Linked DNA regions of Homo sapiens. The protein of the gene in region 1 binds, or shares a complex with, the protein of each later gene. Each region holds a gene or a part of one and is shown in the gene's direction. Other genes may lie near its edges.

Region 1 (16,640 bases):
CTGGTCTTGAACTCCTGACCTCAGGTGATCTGCCTGCCTCAGCCTGCCAAAGTGGTGGGATTACAGGCGTGAGCCACCGTGCCCGGCCAAGGTAACAGGTTTTATATGTATTTTAAAAAATATTTTACGTGTAATATAAACACGCTTATACAGAACATTTGGAAAATACAATTTTTCCACATAGTTGAGGTCATTCTGTGTGTAAAATTTGTAATGTGTGTCTCTTAATGGCATGTCATAAGACTTTCTCCATGTTACTACATTTTCTTTGACAACACTGATTTTAATGGCTGCTGAAGATTTCATTGAGGCCGGGTGTGGTGGCTCACGCCTGTAATCCCAGCACTTTGGGAGGCTGAGGTGGGTGGATCATTTGAGGTCTGGAGTTCAAGACCAACCTGGCCAACATGGTGAAACCCCGTCTCTACTGAAAATACAAAAATTAGCCGGGCAGTAGTGGCGTGCGCCTGTAATCCCAGCTGCTTGGGAGGCTGAAGCAGGAGAATCACTTGAGCCTGAGAGGCAGAGGTGTCTCAAAAAAAAAAAAAAAAAAAAAAAAAAAAAAAATCCACCACTCCCTGGCCTCTTTCTCCTCTCTTTTTGAGTTTTCCTTGCTTTTCTTGTCTGATTTTTATTGCAGATTAACAGTAGAATTATTTTATCAAGTAACAAAAGATTCCATTAGAATTGTGATTGAATGGGCCGGGCGCAGTGGCTCACGCCTGTAATCCCCCCACTTTGGGAGGCCGAGGCGGGTGGATCACGAGGTCAGGAGATTGAGACCACCGTGGCTAACACGGTGAAACCCCATCTCTACTAAAAATACAAAAAATTAGCCGGGCGTGGTGGCGGGCGCCTGTAGTCCCAGCTACTTGGAAGGCTGAGGCAGGAGAATGGCATGAACCTGGGAGGCGGAGCTTGCAGTGAGCTGAGATCGTGCCACTGCACTCCAGCCTGGGTGACAGAGCGAGACTCCGTCTCAAAAAACAAAAAAAAAGAATCGTAATTGAATGTTGTAAAAGTGAGAACTTGAGAAATTAATTTGGTAAGAATTTACATCTTTATAAGATTCATTATTTTCTAAGATTATGGCTTGTTTCTCCATTTTTTTTTTAGTCTTCTATTTTATCTTGCAGCAATTTTTTTTTTTTCCTTTTTGATAGGGTCTTGCTCTGTCACTCAGGCTGGAGTGCAGTGGTTTGATCACAGCTCACTGCAGACTCAACTTCCTGGGCTCAAGCAGTCCTCCCACCTCAGCCTCTTGGGTAGCTGGGACTACAGGTGTGTGCCACAATGCCCAGGTCATTTTTTTTTTTTTTGAGATGGAGTTTTGCTCTTGTTGCCCAGGCTGGAGAACAATGGCCCGATCTTGGCCCACTGCAACCTCCGCCTACCAGCTTCAAGCAATTATCCTGCCTCAGCCTCCTGAGTAGCTGGGATTATAAGTGCCTGCCACCACGCCCAGCTAATTTTTGTATTTTCAGTAGAGATAGGCTTTCACCATGTCGGCCAGGCTGGTCTCGAACTCCTCACCTCAGGTGATCCACCTGCCTCGGCCTCCCAAAGTGCTGGGATTACAAGCCACCGTGCCCGGCTGCTAATTTTTTTTTTGAGACAGGGTCTCACTCTGTCGCCCAGACTGGAGTGCAGCGGCACAATCTCGGCTCACGGTAATCTCTGCCTCCAAGGTTCAAGGGATTCTCTCGCCTCAGCCTCCCGAGTAGCTGGGATTACAGGCATGTGCCACCACACCCAGCTAATTTTTGTATTTTCAGTAGAGACGGGGTTTCACCATGTTGGCCAGGCTGACGCCCAGCTAATTTTTAAAATTTTTTTGTAGAGATGGGGTATTGTTATGTTGCCTAGGCTGGCCTTGAACTCCTAGGCTCAAGCAATCCTCCTGCCTCGGCCTCCCAAAGTGTTGGGATTACAAGCATAAGCCACTGTAACCAGCCTATAATTTTCTTTATGTCAGTTTCTCACATTTTTCAGTAAAGATAAATATTTTATAGTAGTGTTACTGTTACCACTGTGAATGGGGAAAATAATAATCACAATAGCCAATATGTATTGAAGGTTTACTATGTGCAGGGTAGCTTCTAAATGCTTTACTATGTTAACTAATTTAATATTCATAATGACTTTATAAGAGCTATTATTTACATTCCCATTTTGTGGATGAGAAAACTGAGGCCAGAAGGGTTAGGTTCACAGTCCTAGTAAATGAATGAACAGGGCTTTAACGTCTTGCTATCTGGTTTAGCAGGCCATACTCTTAACTATCATATTATTGGGATTTTTAAAAATCAATAATGTCTTCTAACTGGTTAATCTTAGTATATGAGAAGCTACAGATTTATTTTATACTTATCTTACATCAAGTTACTTCTCTGCATTCTAGTATTAATTCTCATCATTTTAAAATGGATTCTTACGCATTTTCTATGTGTACAATCATATTATCTACAAATAATGATAAATTTACCTCTCCCTTCCTAAAAGTTGTAACCCCTTTTTTTCTATTTCCAATCTTATTATATTGGATTTTTCAGAATAATACTAAATAACTCAGTGATGAGACTAGATATTCTTGTATCTTTTTTTTTTTTTTTTAAGAAAAGGTCTCATCGTGTTGCCCAGGCTGACCTCGAGCTCCTGGGCTCAAGGGATCCTCCCATCTCAGTCTCCTGAGTATCTGGGACTACAGGCACTTACAACCATGCAGGGCAGCTCATTTCATCTTTACATAAGTTTTTGATCTTATATATACACATACATGATGAATATCAAAACTATTAAGAATATTTATGGCCAAGTGCGGTGGCTCATGCCTCTAATCTCAGCATTTTGGGAGGCCAAGGCGGGCGGATCACGAGGTCAGGAGTTTGAGATCAGTCTGGCCAATACGATGAAACCCTGTCTGTAATAAAAATACAAAAAAAATTAGCCGGGCATGGTGGCACACGCCTGTAGTCCCAGCTACTCGGGAGGCTGAGGCAGGAGAATTGCTTGAACCCAGGAGATGGAGGTTTCAGTGAGTTGAGATCGCGCCACTGCACTTCAGCCTGGGCGACAGAGCGAGACTGTCTCAAAAAAAAAAAAGAATATTTATAGAAAATGCAGTTAACATACTGTGTTCTCTTCTTTGACAATTAACAACCGTCAAATATTTTTTGTTTGGTTTATTTTTGACCTATTCTATAAAGAAATTTCCTAATACCTTTGTATTAATTATTGGTATAAACCCTAATTGGTTGTATTATATAATTACTATATTAACATACTGTTACGTTTTATTTATTAATCTTAAATATTTTAGGAATCTAACATTTATATCCATAAGTAAGGGTCTATAGCTTTTTTGGGAGTGTTATTTCTGACAGGTTTTGATATTAGATGTGTTCTGTCTTCATAAATAAATTGGGTAGTTTTCCATCTTTTTCTATGTTCAGAACAGTTCCTGCTTTCTATTCATTTTGACAGATAAACACTGTATAATAGAGATGACAAAAAAGAGAATGCAAATCTGCACAGATTATTTTGCCTCAGTAACTCTGCCACTTTCATAGCTGGAGTACAGCCTTGATTGTGAAAAAGAAATTTGGAGCAGTAGGAGGGTCAAACAGGCCATTATTTTGGTGTTGAAGAGTGTGGCTGGCTGGGCAGGCACAGAGATGAGTGAAGGTGGGCCTGGGGAGGGAGGCAAGCGCTGAGGGAGGAGGGGAGCACAGTAGAAGATGCCAAGAGGTTTTCAATGGGCTAGAGGTGTTTAAACAAGGACAAAAGAACAAGATAAGGTGGAAGAATTGGGCCTGAAAGCGAGGAAAGCCAGGGGGATAAGTGGGAGCATTATCTGGGAGTGGGTACCTCTTTCTTCCAGAAAGTCTCCAGTGCTCTGGCCTATTGGTCATTGGCTCCTGTTGGAGAAAGTAACATTATTTCTCACCCAGGGTATTTGCCCTTCTGTCCCACCATTTCCCTATCTTCATCTCAGCCAAGGCAAAAGTCCCATAGTATAACAGTGATTCACACACTTCTGGGCCCAAAAACTCAGCATGCAGAGCAGAGCAAAGCAGAACATAATGTAGACTTCACCAACTTTGACTTAACGCCTAGGGACAGGACCTGTTCAAGGCGCTCTATTTCTCTTCATTCCTTCCCTTCTTGCTCCTCTACAACTCATGTAGACAGACCCACGGTTACATGCTGTGTTTTATGGCACAGGAAAGTGCTATAGAAAAGGCTGAGAGCAACGTGGTATGGAGTTACTGAGAACTGTTCAGCATGATGCTAGCCACAATGCCGAGGCCATTTGGAATGAAAAGACAAAGACAGCACAGACCAAAGAAATTCAGCCCATGTAAACTTACTTTAGGGTCAGTCAGAAATTCTAGGTTCTTTTTACATGAATCCTTTAGAAAATTACTTTAACTGATGGCAAAACTGACATTATTGTTTTATAGATTGTCCTCTCTCCCTGTCACCCATGATGGGTTAGTTAACAACCAACAGAGCAGCTACCTGCTTGACATCAGGAGTGAGATGCCAGGAGCACAGATGGTCCACAATCTAGACAATTAGCTTCTAAAGAAGAAAAAACATCTAACAAGTCTTCTGTGAATGTAGAGTTTGGCTGGGCACAACTAGGGCAGAGAACAAGCAGACCTCCTCAACAACTCTTTCTTTTACCTCTTAAAATGCCAGTGAAAGTGGGGCGTCATGACTCACACCTGTAATCCCAGCACTTTGGGAGGCCGAGGTGGGTGAATCACCTGAGGTCAGGAGTTTGAAACCAGCCTGGCCAACATGGTGAAACCCCGTCTCTACTAAAAATACAAAAATTAGCCAGGCATGGTGGTGCACACCTGTGGTCCCAGCTACTTGGGAGGCTGAGGCAGGAGAATTGCTTGAACCCGGGAGGTGGAGGTTGCAGTGAGCTGAGATCATGCCACTGCACGCCAGCCTGGGCGACAGAGCAAGACTCTGTCTCAAAATAAAATGAAAAATGAAATAAAATATAAATAAATAAAATGCTGGTGGAGTACTCACCCACTTGCTGAGAACAACCATTTATTGGAAAGACCTGGAGGGAAGAATTCCAAATAAATTCTGTAGATACTCCAACTCTAAGGAGGGGGAGCATAGTGACTTCCTTCCAATGAATACAGTATGGAAAGTTGGGGCCGGGGAGAGGGTGGGAGAGAATCACTTAACAGTGGAAAAACTGGATAAACTACTTCTTTTCAGGTGATCAAGGTCAACATTAAGTCATAAATCATGTTCATAGTATGTACCCTTGATATGATGTGATTAAAATAGCACTTTTATTTTTTTGAGATGGAGTCTCGCTCTGTCACCCAGGCTTGGAGTGCAGTGGTGTGATCTCGGCTCACTGCAGCCTCTGCTTCCCAGTTTCAAGCAGTTCTCCTGCCTCAGCCTCCGAGTAGCTGGTATTACAGGCGCATGCCACCATTCCTGGCTAATTTTTGTATTTTTAGTAGAGACGGGGTTTCACCATGTTGGCCAGGCTGGTCTCGAATTCCTGACCTCAGGTGATCTGCCTGCCTCGGCCTCCTAAAGTGCTGGGATTACAGGCCTGAGCCACTGCCCCCGGCAAAAACAGCACTTTAACTCTGTGACCTTCCTTCCCAAAACACAGTCTAATCATGAGACAAACAGACAAATTCCAATAGAGGGGCATCCTACAATATACCTAACCAGTACTCCTCAAAACTACCAAAGTCATCAAAAACAAGGAACATCTGAGAAACTGTCATAGCCAAGAGGAGCCTAAGGAGACATAGCAACTAAATGTCATATGATATGCTGCATGGGATCCTGGAGCAGAAAAATAGTAACGATAATAGTGGACAAAAGCACCTCCAATCACTTCAGGCTTCATGGAGCTTTTTTTTTTTTTTTTTTTGAGATGGAGTCTCGCTCTCTCGCCCAGGCTGGAGTGCAGTGGCACGATCTCGGCTCACTGCAAGCTCTGCCTCCTGGGTCATTCTCCTGCCTCAGCCTCCTGAGTAGCTGGGACTACAGGCGCCTGCCACCACACCCGGCTAATTTTTTTTGTATTTTTTTTAGTAGAGACGGGGTTTCACTGTGTTAGCCAAGATGGTCTTGATCACCTGACCTCGTGATCCGCCTGCTTCGGCCTCCCAAAGTGCTGGGGTTTTTTTTTGTTTTTTTTTTTGAGACGGAGTCTTGCTGTTGCCCAGGCTGGAGTACAACGGCATGATCTAGGCTCACTGCAGCCTCCACCTCCCACCTCCTAGGTTCAAGTGATTCTCCTGCCTCAGCCTCCTGAGTAGCTGGTATTACAGGCGCACGCCACCACGTCTGGCTAAATTTTGTATTTTTAGTAGAGATGGGTTTCTCCGTGTTGGTCAGGGTAGTCTCGAACTCCCGACCTCAGGTGATCCGCCCGCCTCGCCCTCCCAAAGTGCTGGGATTACGGGCGTGAGCCACTGTGCCCAGCCTGGCCTTCATGGTGCATTTTTTAAATGCTTTGGTTTTTCCGACTTTCCTTTCCTCCTCCCCCTGCCCCGACATTATTTTGCTCTTGTTGCCCAGGCTGGAGTGCAGTGGCGTGATCTTGGCTCACTGCAACCTCCGCCTGCCGGGTTCAAGCAGTTCTCCTGCTTCAGCCTCCCGAGTAGCTGGCCGAGTAGCTGGGATTACAGGCGCCTGCTACCACGTTTAGGAGAGACGGGGAGTTTTCATGTTGGCCAGGCTGGTCTCGAACTCCTGACCTCAGGAGATCCACCCGCCTCCGCTTTCCAAAGTGCTGGGATTACAGGCGTGAGCCACCGCGCCCGGCCGGTTTTCCGGCTTTCATTCTTTTGGGGCACTTGCATTGCACCCAGGGTTCCCCAGAACTTATCCTACCCCACACCCTTTTCGTATTTCCTATGGCTCTGTCCCCAACGAGCTATGGTGATCTCAGTCGCATGGCCTCAGTTCTTTTCTTCTAGCGACCTCCATCCAACTTTCTATTACACAGCGCCCCCTAGACGTTCAATTCAGCATGACCAAACCCAAACCCTGATTTCCCAAACCCTCTTTCCGCATTTCTTGCTCACTGCATGGACAGAATCCTAGGCATCACCCCCTACTTTGCTTTCTCAGGACTCCTTGCCAGTCGGTCCCTAAGTTCTGCCAGCGGCGCCTGCGTGGGGTCTCTTGTACCGTGTTCTCCTCTCCATCCTTGCTGCCGAGCCCTCAACACCAGTGGGCCCCCTGCCTTCTGGAGTTCCCATTTACCTCCCTATGTCTTTCCTTGCTTCCTTCCTTTCCATCTCTAGCAGCTAATGACATGAGAAAATGTAGATTCTCTCTGGCCTCCATGCCAGCCAATTTCATGACTGCTGCCCACTGTAATTAATGAATTCCTTTTCTCTATCTTGAGGTGTGTGTGTGTGTTTAGGCGTTTATTTACACCTTTTGTGTTTGAAACACAAAACACTACTTCCTAGAATCACTAGGAAGTAGTAGCTGAGTTAGCAGTTTATTTTAATATGTAACATAGTAAGGTGACAAAGCTCATTTTAATAGCACCAGCCATTAACCCAGTTTTCTCAGTGTTCATATGGACGTAAATAATGACACAAGAAAAACACTTTTGAGGGTAGTTACGGGAAAAGCTGACATTACATGGCTGCATAACCCAACCGACTCAGGATCTGATAATGAAAGCGTGAAGATAATAAAGAAGCATCAAGCTGCGAAAGGAAAGGAAAATTACAAAATGCTCACGCAGCGAAGCTGCGAGGAACCCCACCGAGCCAGCCAGGAGTCGAACCTGGAATCTTCTGATCCGTAGTCAGACGCGTTATCCATTGCGCCACTGGCCCTGAGATGGCACTGTTTCTCTCCGTGATGGTACTTCAAGGTTATACTGCAGGGTTTCATGGGCGGTGTAGTCTCTCAACGGCGTTCTTCAGATAGACTAAGCATTCTGGGAGATTGAAGTTCGTCAGGAACCAGACCCTGAGATTGGTGGATCCATGCCGTACGCCACTGTGCAGCCCGCGGATTGGCAGGAAAAGCCACTCCCCATCCCTCCTGTTCGGGAGCTGTGGCAGACGCTCTGGTTGTTAAGGCGACTCGTCCCGCCTTCTGGGGCACTAGTTTGACTTTGTGATTGGCTACTAGTATCAAGGAATCCCGGCGTGGACAGCGCGAGGAGAAAGATGGCGGCGATGGCGGTCGGGGGTGCTGGTGGGAGCCGCGTGTCCAGCGGGAGGGACCTGAATTGCGTCCCCGAAATAGCTGACACACTAGGGGCTGTGGCCAAGCAGGGGTGAGGGCCGGACCTCCACGAGCGGAATGCGGGGTCCGAACTCGGGGACGGAGAAGGGCAGACTAGTCATCCCGGAGAAGCAGGGGTGAGGGGGTCGGCTAGGATGAGGAGGGGAGAGACTATTACTCTTTGGAGGGGAGGAGCCTCGGACCCAGTAACGTGAGGAAAATAACTTGTGGGAGGCCTGTGGTCACTGAGTCCCAAAGTTGGGAGAGTTGTTGGGTAAACTCTAAAGGGCCCTGGAGGTCGCGATTATTGTCTGGGAGTGGGAGGAGGTGTTAGGGGGCAAGGGAGAGAAGAGGCTAATTTTGACGGGGGAGGCATGGGCAGAACTGGGGCAAATCTGGATGTGATGGTCTTGGAAACATACTGACACCTGAGGAGAAAAAAATTCTACTTGTGGATATCCATCATTTTCTCCTTACTCATATGTCCCATGGCTGTGTTTTAGGGAGAAATTGAGGCACAGTACAGCAGAGTTGATATCCCCCAAGGTGGTCTGAACTCAGCAGCCTAGTAGGCTGAACTGATGGCAGCTGAAAGGGCTGTGCAAAATCAAGATAGCCTAAATCCAGTTGCTTGGCTCTCTGGCACTGCTGCTGTCTTTACATGATTCTGGGTCTGTCGCGGTTGTAGGTTTGATTTCCTCTGCATGCCTGTCTTCCATCCGCGTTTCAAGAGGGAGTTCATTCAGGAACCTGCTAAGAATCGGCCCGGTCCCCAGACACGATCAGACCTACTGCTGTCAGGAAGGGGTAGGGACCATCCCATATGCCCCTTAATTATTAGAGGCAATAACAACTTCTGCTTTATCGGGGCCCTCATTCTCCTCCTTTTCTGACTTGGATATATTTGTTAGTCCCTGGGATATAGATAACTTGTTTTCTCCTTGCTTCTCTATTCTGCATCAGGCTATCCCATGTCTATGTAGAAAAAACCTTTGTCTCTCATTTCTACTCTTGATTCCCAAAACTAAAAATTGAACAAGTAAAGTGCTGAACCTTATTCAGTATTTGTCTTTCTTGGGTGGGGGAGTGCAGACTGGAATACGCTAATTGTGGGAAAGCTTTCTCCATGGATTCGTCCAGACTCAAAAGTGGAGAAGATTCGCAGGAACTCCGAGGCGGTAAGACTGTTTGACTTCTCTGCTGGATTTTTCTAACCAAGCTGGGTGGGGAGAGTGGTCCCCTCCCATCCCCAATAACTTGGTAAATTAACTGATAGAATGAAATTAAAGCTATTAGGCTGGGTGCTGTGGTGCACACCTATAATCCTAGCACTTTGGGAGGCTGAGGCTGTAGGATCACTGGAGCTCGGGATTTCGAGACCAGCCTGGGCAGCGTAGTGAAACCCCATCTCTATAAAATATACAAAAATTAGCCAGGCATGGTGGTGCATGCCTGTGGTCCCAGCTACTCAGGAGGCTGAGGAGGGAGGATCAGTTGAGCTTGGGAAGGTCAAGGCTGCAGTGAGTGGAGACTGTGCCACTGCACTCCAGCCTGGGTGACAGAGTGAGACTTTGTCTCAAAAAAAAAAAAAAAAAAGCTGTTTGCTTGTTAGCTCAAACTTTTCCTCTTCATCTCCGTTCCAGGCCATGTTACAGGAGCTGAATTTTGGTGCATATTTGGGTCTTCCAGCTTTCCTGCTGCCCCTTAATCAGGAAGATAACACCAACCTGGCCAGAGTTTTGACCAACCACATCCACACTGGCCATCACTCTTCCATGGTATAGCTGAGGGGCTCCTTTCCTGCTGCATATCATAGTAGTCAGATTGTGCTAAGTACCTTCTTGTGCCTAGCCATTCAGTGAAGGGTGTGTTTGGCAGAATTGAAGTATCAGTATTGGCGGGCACAGTGGGTGATGCCTGTAATCCCAGCACTTTGGGAGGCTGAGGTGGGCAGATCACTGAGCTCAGGAGTTCGAGACCAGCTTGGGCAGCGTGGTGAAATCCTGTCTGTATAAAAAACCAAAACCAAAACAAAAACAAAAAAACACAAATTAGCTAGGTGGGGTGTCACACGCCTGTAGTCCCAGCTACTTGGGAAGCTGAGGTGGGAGGATGACTTGAACCTGTGAGGCGGAGGTTGCAGTTAGCTGAGATTGCACCACTGCACTCCAGCCTGGGTGACAGAGCCAGACCTTGTCTCAAAAAAAAAAAAAAAAAAAGGTCAGTATTGCGCACCTCTCCATCTAAAAGTGGTATGAAGAGAGTTTCAAAACATGTAAATGTAATTATTTTGGAAACTTACGTAAGACAAGGCAGATATTTACATAAGGATCTATATATAAGGTACATGTTCACTTACAAAATTACAAATTGGGAAAAGCATATAAAGGGATTAACGAGGTCTGGATGAAGTTTTTTTTATTGAGGGAAACTTTCTGGACCCAATGAGTTCAAAAGAGAGTTCTAAAAGGGTGACTGTTCATGTGCAGTTCTGGATGCGGGTACCCTTGGTGGCACCAGAGGACCTGAGAGATGATATAATTGAGAATGCACCAACTACACACACAGAGGAGTACAGTGGGGAGGAGAAAACGTGGATGTGGTATGTCTCCCTTTGCTGCTGTACCAGGGTGCAAGGGATAGGGTGAGGGGAAGTACAGGGTGCAACCTGTAGGGAGGTCTCCTTGAGCTGTGGTGATTGGTCGGCCATATCTAGTTTACTGTACTTTTCTGTATTTGACTGAACAGGTGGCACAACTTCCGGACTTTGTGTGACTATAGTAAGAGGATTGCAGTGGGTGAGTCCATGAGAATCCTGGGATGGGTGTGGCTTCTCTTACCTCCTGTGAATAAGAATCAGGAATTTCATATATAGTATACAATTTTGCTACTTCCCCTCTGTCTCAGACTGGCTTTCTCTTAAAGAAGTAAACAGATTTTGCGCAAAGGAGCAAGGAAGGGTTTCTTGCCTGGCAGTGGTTGACAGTTTTTCTTTTGCCTCATGTAGCTCTTGAAATTGGGGCTGACCTCCCATCTAATCATGTCATTGATCGCTGGCTTGGGGAGCCCATCAAAGCAGCCATTCTCCCCACTAGCATTTTCCTGACCAATAAGAAGGGATTTCCTGTTCTTTCTAAGATGCACCAGAGGCTCATCTTCCGGCTCCTCAAGGTGAGTGGTAGGAGGGTTCTAAAGGTAGTCCAGCTATACATCTTGCCTTATTTACCTGTGTATGATCGTTTTTTCCTGTGAGGCTGACTCTTTTTCTTTGGTTTCTGGGGAGCAATTTCAGTGAAGTTGGGAATCTTGAGAACAAAAAGGTAAATGCCAGTAGTAGCCCTAGAAACCTTTCAAAACAAACCAAACCTCATGAGAACTTTGCAGAAGGTTTCATTTAGGAAGTTACAGCAAGGATCCATGAGGCTGTTTGGGTGTTGATACTTTCATGGCATAAGAGGGCTTTTTCTTTTTTCTTTTTTTTTTTGAGACAGGGTCTCACTCTGTTACCCAGACTGGAGTGCAGCCATACCATCTCAGCTCACCAGAACCTCTGCCTCCCAGGCTTAAGCGATTCTTCTGCTTTAGCCTCCTGAGTAGCTGGGATTATAGGAATGCACCACTACTGCCCGGCTAATTTTTGTATTTTCAGTAGAGACAGGTTTTATCATGTTGGCCAGGCTGGTCTTGAACGCCTGACCTCAAATGATCCACCCGCCTCGGCCTTCCAAAGTATTGGGATTACAGGCGTGGGCCACCACGCCCGGCCAAGGGGGCTTTTTATAAGTTTACTGAAGCCTCATGCTGCCTTTGTTGGTATTGGGACAGACGCTAGAGAACTGTTGGTCTGGGCCAGGTGCAGTGGCTCGCGCCTGTAATCCCAGGACTTTGGGAGGCTGAGGCGGATGGATCATCTGAGGTCAGGAGTTTGAGACCAGCCTGTCCAACATGGTGAAACCCCGTCTCTACTAAAAATACAAAAATTAGCCAAGCATGGTGGCACGCACCTGTAGTCCCAGCTACTTGGGAGGCTGAGGCAGGAGAATTGCTTGAACCTGGGAGGTGGAGGTTGCAAGTGAGCCAAGATCACGCCATTGCACTCCAGCCTGGGCAATAGAGCGAGACTCCATCTTTTTTTTTAAAAAAAAAAAAAAAGAGAACTGTTGATCTGGGCCTTATTTTACACTAGGGCTCTTTGGCCATATACCATAATATTCCAGAATCTTGGTTTGAGGGCTGTGTCTGATGGTCTGACTTTTCTCACAGTTGGAGGTGCAGTTCATCATCACAGGCACCAACCACCACTCAGAGAAGGAGTTCTGCTCCTACCTCCAATACCTGGAATACTTAAGCCAGAACCGTCCTCCACCTAATGCCTATGAACTCTTTGCCAAGGGCTATGAAGACTATCTGCAGTCCCCGCTTCAGGTGGGTCTGGAGTGCACTTAGAGGAGGAAGGTGGGATGGAAAATGTTTCTTGAGAATATATGCCTCCAAATCTTACTAAAACTCAGAAAGCAGTGGAAAGTTTTTGATATTTTAGTGCATTGTCCTTTGCCAGAAACTGGCTAACTTTGTCCTTTTCCTCATTCATCAGCCACTGATGGACAATCTGGAATCTCAGACATATGAAGTGTTTGAAAAGGACCCCATCAAATACTCTCAGTACCAGCAGGTACTGTGTGGTGCCCAGGGTGAGGAAAGCACAGGGCCAGCATGACCTGGGGAGGATGGGATTACAACCATGGGATATTCTCTCCTCCCTCCAGGCCATCTATAAATGTCTGCTAGACCGAGTACCAGAAGAGGAGAAGGATACCAATGTCCAGTGAGTGCTTTCCCCTCAATCTCAGGGACTTGCATACCTATATCTGTATATGCCAAGTCTGCTTGACTCTTCCCTTTCTTTCTTAGGGTACTGATGGTGCTGGGAGCAGGACGGGGACCCCTGGTGAACGCTTCCCTGCGGGCAGCCAAGCAGGCCGACCGGCGGATAAAGCTGTATGCTGTGGAGAAAAACCCAAATGCCGTGGTGACGTGAGTAGCAACCTGCTTGCTGGGAAGTTAGTCCTCATTGCCAAATTTCCTTAACATCTCTCCTTACCTTATTGTCTCTGTTTCAGGCTAGAGAACTGGCAGTTTGAAGAATGGGGAAGCCAAGTGACCGTAGTCTCATCAGACATGAGGGAATGGGTGGCTCCAGAGAAAGCAGACATCATTGTCAGTGAGCTTCTGGGCTCATTTGCTGACAATGAATTGTCGCCTGAGTGCCTGGATGGAGCCCAGCACTTCCTAAAAGGTGCCCCCAGGTTGGGGTGTAGGTGGAGGGTGATGATGGGTGAGACAGCAACCTGGGAGGAGGGTACAGGGTTTAGGGGAAAGTGGGTTGGACCTGGGTCACATCATATGAGTTTGAGAGCCACTGCTTCACTGCCTCTGTGCCCCTAGCAAATGAAGTCATCTCTCCAAACCTTAGTGTTCATATTTGTAAAATGAAGGGAGTGGGCTGGGCGCGGTGGCTCATGCCTGTAATTGCAGCACTTTGGGAGGCCAAGGCGGGAGGTCAGGAGTTTGAGACCAGCCTGGGCAACATGGCGAAACCCCATCACTACTAAAAATACAAAAATTAGCCAGGCGTGGCGGTGCACGCCTGTAATCCCAGCTACTCGGGAGGCTGAGGCGCGAGAATCACTTGAACCTGGGAGGAGAAGGTTGCAGTGAGCTGAGATTGTGCCACTGCACTCCAGCCTGGGCAACAGAGCGAGACTCCATCTCAAATAAATAAATAAATAAATAAATAAATAAATAAATATGACATATGTACCCTGAGCTTAGCTTTCATCAGGAACTTTTGTGGGACTTTGTGACCCCACAAAAGTTAAGAACCACCAGATTAGACTATCTTGGGTTCTTTCAGTTTTAATCTGTGTGACTCTGTAAATTAACCTAGTAGTGGAATCCTCCATGACAGTAGTTGGAAGCAGGCTGGCTTAGTAATGTGACAACATGCATTTGTCTCTTTCTTCCATGCCCATGCCAACGTTGGTTGGTTTTGACATGGGAGGTTTGATCCTTCTGATCCTTCAGTTAGTACAGACATACCATTTCCCTCCCTCTGGAACTAATTTGACTCTCCTGCTGTGCAGATGATGGTGTGAGCATCCCCGGGGAGTACACTTCCTTTCTGGCTCCCATCTCTTCCTCCAAGCTGTACAATGAGGTCCGAGCCTGTAGGGAGAAGGACCGTGACCCTGAGGTAAAGAACCACTCTCTCTGGAAAGAAGTGGTACTCTTTAGTCCTCTTCTTTTTCTGTATTTGCATCAGCTATTTTCTTCTGCTGGGGATGAAGAGGTGAAGGAGAAGTTAGGGATTGGGGAAGCACTAAAGTAAAACTTTTTTTAATCCTTGGGGAAGTAGTTCTCTCTTGTGTGTCTTCCCCAACACTCTCTCTCTCTTTCTGTCTCTGACAGGCCCAGTTTGAGATGCCTTATGTGGTACGGCTGCACAACTTCCACCAGCTCTCTGCACCCCAGCCCTGTTTCACCTTCAGCCATCCCAACAGAGGTAGGTTCTTTTATGGCTGTCCTCTGACTAGAGGGGTACGGGCTTCTTCCTTCCTCCTGCTTTCTTCCCTTACTGTCCCTAGTCTGCCTTATCTACTCTTCCTTTCCTGGGTCTTGCTCATGCTTTATCAAGTTGTCTAGAGCTTCTGGCCCCTTGTCACCCACATAATTATTTCCTGACAGATCCTATGATTGACAACAACCGCTATTGCACCTTGGAATTTCCTGTGGAGGTGAACACAGTACTACATGGCTTTGCCGGCTACTTTGAGACTGTGCTTTATCAGGACATCACTCTGAGTGAGTGTCTATGGCAGTAGATGGCAGAGTATGAGGGTGTGCTTCCTGGGCAGCTTATATGTACATGTGTCATTTAGATTTATGGGGGGCCCAGTGCTCAATGAATGGAGATCTTTGTGTGATTAGAGAAGAGACCCTCTTCAGCATAGGCAAAAGTCACAGCCATGGAGACCTCTGTTTTTTCATTATTTTGTCCACACAGGTATCCGTCCAGAGACTCACTCTCCTGGGATGTTCTCATGGTTTCCCATCCTCTTCCCTATTAAGGTAGGAACTGCTTTTAAGACTCTCTAGTTAAGCAGTAACCTTTGCCTTTGGTGTTGTGCTTCTTTCCTTCTCCCAGGAAGATAGTTGACTATGACTCATGTTCTCCTGATTTCATATGCTCTTGGATCCCAGTGGTAGGTGTTGGGAGTATTTGGAGTGGCCTTCTGCCTGGCTTTCCCGCATCTACTCTGGCTACTCTTCTGTCTGTTCTCTACTTTGAGCAAGAGTCATCTTTTAAAAACTCAAATTTGATCTTATCTCTCTTGCTGTCTTTTTTTTTTTTTTTTTTTTAAAGAGACGGAGTCTCACTCTGTCGCCCAGGCTGGAGTGCAGTGGCACAATTTCGGCTCACTGCAAGCTCCGCCTCCCGGGTTCATGCCATTCTCCTGCCTCAGCCTCCCTGAGGCTGAGATTACAGGTGCCAGCCACCACACCCGGCTAATTCTTGTATTTTTAGTAGAGACGGGGTTTTACCGTGTTAGCCAGGATGGTCTCGATCTCCTGACCTCATGATCCGCCCACCTCAGCCTCCCAAAGTGCTGGGATTACAGGCGTGAGCCACCGCGCCTGGCCTGATCTTATCTCTCTTTTTTGCTTAAAACTCTTCAATGCCTTCCCATTGTCTTTAGGATAAAAGTCAAAATCTGGGACATTGCTTGTAAGACTTGATGTGATCGAGTGTTTGCTTGCCTTTGCAGCTACTGTCCCCTTGCTTACACTGCTTCAGCCTTATGGACCTTCTTTTTGTTCTAATTGTCTATCTTCTTTCCTACCTCAGGCTTTCATGCCTTTCTCTTGCCTGTAGAGTTCTTTGCTTGTCTCTTCACACAGTTAACCTATCTTCTAGGTCTTCTTTAAACATTTTTATTGTGAGATAAACTTTCTCTGATCTCCTAGACTAGGTTAGTGTTCCCTTTCATAGGTGTTTTTCTGACTCTGTACATGTTCACAGCTCTCACCACACCTTTGATTATTTGTGTTCTGATAGGCTTCAAATAACTTTCATGAGGGTTGGGACAGTCTTGTCATGTTTATCATTTTATCTCCACACCTACCTTAATACATTGCCATGTATAATTCATAGCTTCACCCTGAACCTTCCTGTCTTTCTTCTTACAGCAGCCCATAACGGTACGTGAAGGCCAAACCATCTGTGTGCGTTTCTGGCGATGCAGCAATTCCAAGAAGGTGTGGTATGAGTGGGCTGTGACAGCACCAGTCTGTTCTGCTATTCATAACCCCACAGGCCGCTCATA
Region 2 (6,867 bases), on another chromosome or scaffold:
CAAGGTTTAGATGCTGGGGGATCACTGTGGTTCTCTCAATGGCTAAGTGCCTTTCCCTGCCATTTCTAACTTCAAAGTACATGACTAAGTTATAGGCCAGAGAAATCACTGACTCATATCCAAGGTCCAGTATCCTGGACCCTCAGGGTCACTTGGAAATAGTTTTACAATAATGTTGAATGCCCAGCTGTGCGCAGTGGCTTAACGCCTGTAATCCCAGCACTTTGGGAGGCTGAGGCGGGTGGATCATATGAAGTCTAGGAGTCAGAGACTAGTCTGGCCAACATGCCGAAACCTTGACTCTACCAAAAAGTACAAAAATTAGCCAGGCGTAGTGGTGCACATCTGTAATCCCAGCTACTTGGGAGGCTGAGGCCCGAGAAGTGCTTGAACCCTGGAGGCGGAGGTTGCAGTGAGTCGAGATCACGCCACTGCACTCCAGCCTGGGCAACAGAGTGAAACTGTCTCAGGGAAAAAAAAAAAGTCAATGTTCTATGTCTATTATATTTGCTTTTTATTTCTTAGACATATGATGTGCTTTCCTGGTTAATGCTAACTCTTTTTCAGCATTTCTGCCATGCAGCCTTTTTGTTAGTTCTTTGTGTTTGTGTCTTATTCCCCCTGCTGAATTCCAAATCCTTTATTATTTTTCTATTTTTTGTAGAGACAGAGTCTTGCTATGTTGCCCAGGCTGGTCTCAAATTCCTGGGCTCAAGTGGTCTCCTGCCTTGGCCTCCCAAAGTGCTGAGAGATACAGGCATGAGCCACTGCACCCTGCCCCAAAACCTTTGAGGGTAGAGGAACCATGTATTCATCTTTTGTACACCACCATGGTGCTTGTCCCAGAGCTTTGCTTTTTTCAAGTGAGCAATAAATTCCTTTTCTTACTTCTTATCCTGTTGGCTTTCTATGAATTCTAGGGCTAGGAAAGAACTATGGAAACTGGTTTAATTCCATCCTTCTGCCTCAGGGAAGGGCCACATTCAGACTACCTGGGAAAGTCTGGTAAAATGACTGTAGAAAAGGTTTCCACAGCTTCTAATTAACATGTAGCAGTGACTTTAAAGTTTTTTACATGTAGACCTCCTAAAACAGTTTTGAAAATCTGTGCCCCCTCATACATTTTTAAACTGATACCTAAAAATGCTTATTTAAGTAGTTGCAGAGAAGGTAATTTCTGGCATATAATTTATTGTGTGCTTATTTCAAGCATATATTTGTCAAAATTTTAGATTCGCAGGTTAACGCTACTTAGTTTGCATGAATGTCTACCAAACAGCCTAACTGGCAAAAGCCAGTCTGCATTGTAAAGCCAGTGGACCAAGATAGACTAAATTTTCTGTCAGAAAAAGTCTGACTTTGTTTTTAAATTCAGATAAAGTTGTTGAATATGTCCTTATCACAATGATCTATCATATTTTTTAGTTCTCATTATTAGACAGAAACAGAGTTAAGTCACAGAGCCATACTTGTGTTTGTGGTGTGACTGAAACAAGATCAGCCCCCTTCATTGAATTTTACCTAGATGCTCTTTCTTTTTGCTCTTTGGTTCTTATGGAAAAGCCCCTTTTGTCCCTTAGTTTAGAACCCTTATATTTTTATACCCCTGAGCATTGTAGCGTGGAAAGATCTGGGATGAATGACAGGTATGTGTTCTTTCTATGAAGTGGGAGAAGAGTGATTGAAAACAGAGGCAGTTCAATTTTAAGAAAGAGAACATTAGAGAAATTGGCTCTCTTAATACTATTAGCGCCCAGAACTCCCTCAAAAGTTTTTGTATACTACTTGGAGGTGTGTGTACTCCAGTATGAAGACTGCTATTCTAGAATTATTTAGCCCTCACGTCTAGGATGCCTAAACTGGAAATTCCTTTGTTATTCTTACTAAGCCCCTAATTTCTCATTCATTATCTTCACTAATACGTTTTTTTTTTACAAGGCTTTTTAGGTTTTATAAGTCTATAAACTTCTCCTCTTAGCTTTTGTCTAATCCATAATCTCCCACAAAATTTGTTAAATTGCATCATGAGACCAGCCCTCCCTCCCTCCTGCCCCTTGATTATTCCTGGGCTGGCCCTCTAGTAATGCTTCAGCTTGTTTTCTATCATATTTCTCTTTCTCTCTCCTTTATAGCTCATGCTGCTCAGGTCACTTGTGTTGCTGCCTCTCCTCACAAGGACTCTGTGTTTCTTTCATGCAGCGAGGTAAGAGATAGCTCCTTCTTCCCTAAACACACTCCAGCCATCCATAGGCCAAAGTCTCTAGTGGGGAGACTTTCTGGCCTGCAACTGCTCCTTTGGATTATGAAATCCTTTTTCTGTTCCACCTTCCTCTAGGACAATAGAATTTTACTCTGGGATACCCGCTGTCCCAAGCCAGCATCACAGATTGGTGAGTCTGAGATTCATTGGTGGGAGAATAGTACTTGGAACCCTGATAGAAGAGACTGTCTTTGGCCAGTGTCAAAGCATAGTTGCTAGATGCCCAGTGTAGTTACTGTGACATGAGTGACATAATCTCCTTCTTTTCCAGTGAGGCTCTGCTAACCCCATTCTGTGCAATGAATACCAAGAGGAAGGGCCAGTTCCTGGGTGGGTGATTTACTTTATTAGATGGTAGGACAAAGGGGCCAGAATTGTTATCGTCATGATTCGTGCCTGAAACTTGCCTGTGACTCGTGTCCAGAAAGGGCAGGAGGCTGCTGGGATAAATGGTTATGAGGCTCAAGGATGAGGACACTGCTGCCTTAGCAGGGTTTGGGAAATCAAATAAAGGTGCTCCCAGGATTTAGAGTGATATCATTTGAGAAACTGCTTCTTCTGTACTCTGAGTTTTGGTCCAGACCCTCGTCTCTCCTTTGCAGGCTGCAGTGCGCCTGGCTACCTTCCTACCTCGCTGGCTTGGCATCCTCAGCAAAGTGAAGTCTTTGTCTTTGGTAAGGCAGCGTGTCAGACTTCATATTGACTCTGGGAAAGGGGAGGAGGAAAAAGAAAGAGCTGACTCCACAACACACAAGGCCCTTGTTGCTCAGTCTTAGCCCTCATGGACACTAGATGAATTATGAATTGAGGGTGGGGAGGTGGGGTGATGCCAACGTAGTTTTAGTGTAGTTTTGGAGAACATGATTATTTTCCCAGTGGATTTGATTTTTGATTGATTGATCCAGCTTCTGTATTCTGGGCATGGCTATAAGTCAGTGATCCACAAAGCAAGTGGATTGCTATATAGCGAATTCTGTCCTACTGTGGGTAGGTGTAGCGCTATCGTGGTCATGAGGCTGTGTATATGGTGACATAGTTTGTGGTTAAAATAATAACTGCTTCGTTCATTAACTTAATTTTCACAATGATCCAGTGACTTATTATTCCTACTTTGCAAAAGAGAAAACTGATGCTCAGAATGGTTAACTTTTACAAGCTCGAGGAACTAGGATTCAAGTCTTTGGCACAAAAGTCCATGCTCTTAATCACTATGACATGTTCCTTCTCTTCTACAGGTGATGAGAATGGGACAGTCTCCCTTGTGGACACCAAGAGTACAAGCTGTGTCCTGAGCTCAGCTGTACACTCCCAGTGTGTCACTGGGCTGGTGTTCTCCCCACACAGGTACTGTTCTTTGTCATCAGGGGCCTGATGGGTATAAATGGGAACCGTGAGGGTGTGTGTGTATGTTTTCAAAGCATTAGCTGATGAAGTAGTTCCTTAAAGCAGACAGTGTTCTAGCTGAGGTTTCGGAACATCGAAGATCTCTTAAGTGTGAAGTAGAATCCTTTGGGAGTCAAAGGATTTTTCAGATTAGATGGTTTCTGTCTGAAATGGCTAAAATGTGATTTCATTCCTGCCCAACACCCAAAATGGTTAATGTTGTGGGCTTCTAGGACTGTGAGATTGGAAAAGCCTGTGTTTCTGGGTTATTGCTGAAGCTATAGAGAGGGACCAGATGGGGTGGTTAGTTGCCAGGATGGTTGTCAACCCTAACTTTGCTTCATTTCCCTCATCTTTACTTGAAACTTTTAGTGTGGACTTGTAGTAGCCAGATTAGCCAAAAGTGGGAATCAGGCTGCCTCTCCTGGGTCACTTTACAGTGGCGGCAGGGCCGGCCCAGTTAAGGTTTTGTCTTGGGATCCAGGCTGGACCTTTCACAACCCTCTCCTCCATCTGATAGTGTTCCCTTCCTGGCCTCTCTCAGTGAAGACTGCTCACTTGCTGTGCTGGACTCAAGCCTTTCTGAGTTGTAAGTGTGAAGTGGAATCCTTTGGGAATCAGGGAAGGGGAGCAGTGGGTGGGCGAGTCATTTTCCTCTTCAGAAAACTGTGTTGTGCTTTTGGAGAACAGATTCTCCATCTGTATCCGAAGGGACTTGGTAATGGAAGCAGGCTGGCTGTTGACCCTGTCCATTCCTGGGGCACATTCACAACCCCAAGGACAAGCCGTGTCCTTGGTAGAGGGGGGTGGTAGGTGAAATTTTTAAGTCTAGCCCTCCAGCGCTCTCCCACAAGGGGGCGGCAGTCTACCCTCTCACATAAAGAACTGCGTATGAAATGCAGCCTGCTACAGGGTAAAAGGCAGCACCTGGAAGACCTGAATTGTACTTCCCTCCTTGCCGTGATTTGCTGCCTGTTACTGCCCCTCATCACTGTCTTGTTCTATCCAGCATTTCTTCATCTATGAAAATAGAAGACTGGATTGGATGACTGATGACATCCACTGTGGATAGCTACACTGCTATCCTGGCGATGAGGCCATACAGTTGGTGAAATGTGTGTAACACACCCAAAAAATGTGCCCCAGATGTGTTGGGTTCTCTTTTTTTCTCCAGGTCTGCTTTTCTTGTCTCTACTCTGCCCCGACTTTTTTTCTTTCTTCTAGGTTTAGAAGCCAAGCCCACAGAGACTTTGTGAGAGATGCGACTTGGTCCCCGCTCAATCACTCCCTGCTTACCACAGTGGGCTGGGACCATCAGGTCGTCCACCACGTTGTGCCCACAGAACCTCTCCCAGCCCCTGGACCTGCAAGTGTTACTGAGTAGATTGGATTTAAGACAAAAAGCAAGTCCCCCATGAGTGTCCACTTCTTTGCCCTGCCCTCTCAGCTTGTGAGACAACACAGGAGCCTTCTATAGTATGTTGATATGCTAGATCTGTGCCGTTAATAGGCATCGTCTCTCAGCCTGAGGGAGGCTGGATTCTGGGTTCCTGTAGTCACAGGGAGGAAAAGCTTTCTTAAAAATGGACATGTATGTGCGTGTGAGTGTGTGTGTAGATTTATAGTTTTTGGTAGTGGCAGGAATAAAAAAAATCCATCCTACATCTTCCCTAAGCACTGCCTCTCTCTCACCCCCCAAAACAAGTTGACGAAAGGGTTTTATGTAGCTGTCTATGAGGAATTGGCCGTGTCTGGGTGGGTTATGGGATGTGGGCATCCCTGGGTTCTTGGAAGCAGCTCTTATGCTACTCATAGAGATGGGATTGACTTTATTTTTTTATAGTGCTTAATTCACCATTATGAGAAATGCTTCCAGTCACAAAAATGCAGCCCAGCTCACTCTGAGGAAGAAGCAGGACTTGGTACGGTTTTACACAACTCCTTACCATTAAACTGAATCAGAAATCCATTTTCTGGCTGAATAAAAAGTTTGGCTTGCCTGTGTAATGCCCACTCCCTTCCCCCTGGCTCCCTAGTGATGGGACATATATGAGAGAGAAGTGTTTTTCTATCATAGACACCATAGGGGAAAGTTTGGGGATGAAGGAGAGCTTAAAGGTGTTTCAATTAAGTTAGAAAACTGACACAGGCTGTTGAGAATTCTTTGCCACTTTTCCCACCCCAAAACAGCATGGGGCCTGACATCTTCTGCCCTGGTCCCCTTTCTCTTGATGTGGAAAGTCTGAATGCAGTATTTATAGACTTCTAAGGTTTTAAAATCCAGTATCAAGAAGAAAATCAGAAATACTGGTTGGTGAAATAAAGAGTTTAGGCATTGTTGGCCTGTCTTTTTTGAAGCATGTGTGTTATGTGTAGTTAGATATATTTCACTTATGTGAGTCATCATGGTGTTGGTCTTGTAGCCCATTATTTTTCCTGTGCTTCCCCAGCTTCCCAAAGTAGCTAGTTAGAACTTAAGGTAAATATTTATTCTTGGGTTGGTGGAGTGGATATTGCCAGTTAGGAGTCATGGATCAATTACTGATTATATTGAAAGTAAATATAATCAATTATGTACTTTTGAGCTTTGCAGGTTCAATTTAGGTAAAAATCACATTATGAAACTGGGAAAGTCTGAAGGAATATGGGCAAAATATTTCTCAGTAAAGCTTCCATGCTTCACCCTTGACATGATTACCCTTGAGTAAAACATGGGAATTTGTAGTTGTGTGATCCTCTGGCGTTGATGTGGAGTAGGAATAAAGTCTTGCATCATTTTTATAATGTGGGAGGAAATAGAATGGGTAGGTACAATCACTTAAGTTCTGCCTCTCGAAGATAAAACTTTAATTTTGTGGACACTTAGAGAAAGTAAGGGGTGGGGGAGCTTGAGGTGAGTAGGAATTTGCATAGCCCTTTTCTTCCTGGACTTAAGAATGATGGAGAAAAAACTCAGTGAAAGAGATAAGGAAGCAAATGTGTGGAAATGTGTGATAAGGAAGGAAATGTGTCAAGGTGGTTACAATATGGAAGGGAAGCATAGGTTTTTTTTTTCTTTTGTTGAGATGGAGTTTCACTCTTGCTGCCCAGGCTAGTGTGCAGTGGCATGATCTTGGCTCACTGCAACCTTCGCCTCCTGGGTTCAAGCAATTCTCCTGTCTCAGCCTCTTGAGTAGCTGGGATTACAGGCTAATTTTTGTGTGTTTAGTAGAGACAGGGTTTCA

What was found.
Region 2: PRMT5 (region 1) and WDR77 share a complex: the UniProt entries of both Homo sapiens proteins name them as parts of the methylosome complex.

The regions. Positions count from the first base shown.
Region 1 is NC_000014.9:22,920,920-22,937,559, reverse strand, and holds the start of PRMT5 (protein arginine N-methyltransferase 5), read left to right. Parts: upstream 1-8,183; 5' UTR 8,184-8,198; coding exon 8,199-8,308; exon of another isoform or gene 8,309-8,334; coding exon of another isoform or gene 8,335-8,393; intron 8,394-8,944; coding exon 8,945-9,063; intron 9,064-9,348; coding exon 9,349-9,434; intron 9,435-9,899; coding exon 9,900-10,034; intron 10,035-10,657; exon of another isoform or gene 10,658-10,745; coding exon 10,746-10,858; exon of another isoform or gene 10,859-11,004; coding exon 11,005-11,054; exon of another isoform or gene 11,055-11,099; intron 11,100-11,263; coding exon 11,264-11,427; intron 11,428-12,519; coding exon 12,520-12,681; intron 12,682-12,850; coding exon 12,851-12,928; intron 12,929-13,022; coding exon 13,023-13,081; intron 13,082-13,118; exon of another isoform or gene 13,119-13,167; coding exon 13,168-13,290; intron 13,291-13,376; coding exon 13,377-13,552; intron 13,553-14,152; exon of another isoform or gene 14,153-14,399; coding exon 14,400-14,509; exon of another isoform or gene 14,510-14,591; intron 14,592-14,724; coding exon 14,725-14,818; intron 14,819-15,000; coding exon 15,001-15,117; intron 15,118-15,319; coding exon 15,320-15,384; and 3 more. UniProt on the Homo sapiens protein: Arginine methyltransferase that can both catalyze the formation of omega-N monomethylarginine (MMA) and symmetrical dimethylarginine (sDMA), with a preference for the formation of MMA.
Region 2 is NC_000001.11:111,439,390-111,446,256, reverse strand, and holds the end of WDR77 (methylosome protein WDR77), read left to right. Parts: intron 1-2,132; coding exon 2,133-2,203; intron 2,204-2,335; coding exon 2,336-2,390; intron 2,391-2,862; coding exon 2,863-2,934; intron 2,935-3,495; coding exon 3,496-3,604; intron 3,605-4,127; coding exon of another isoform or gene 4,128-4,163; coding exon 4,164-4,232; intron 4,233-4,867; coding exon 4,868-5,027; 3' UTR 5,028-6,367; downstream 6,368-6,867. UniProt on the Homo sapiens protein: Non-catalytic component of the methylosome complex, composed of PRMT5, WDR77 and CLNS1A, which modifies specific arginines to dimethylarginines in several spliceosomal Sm proteins and histones.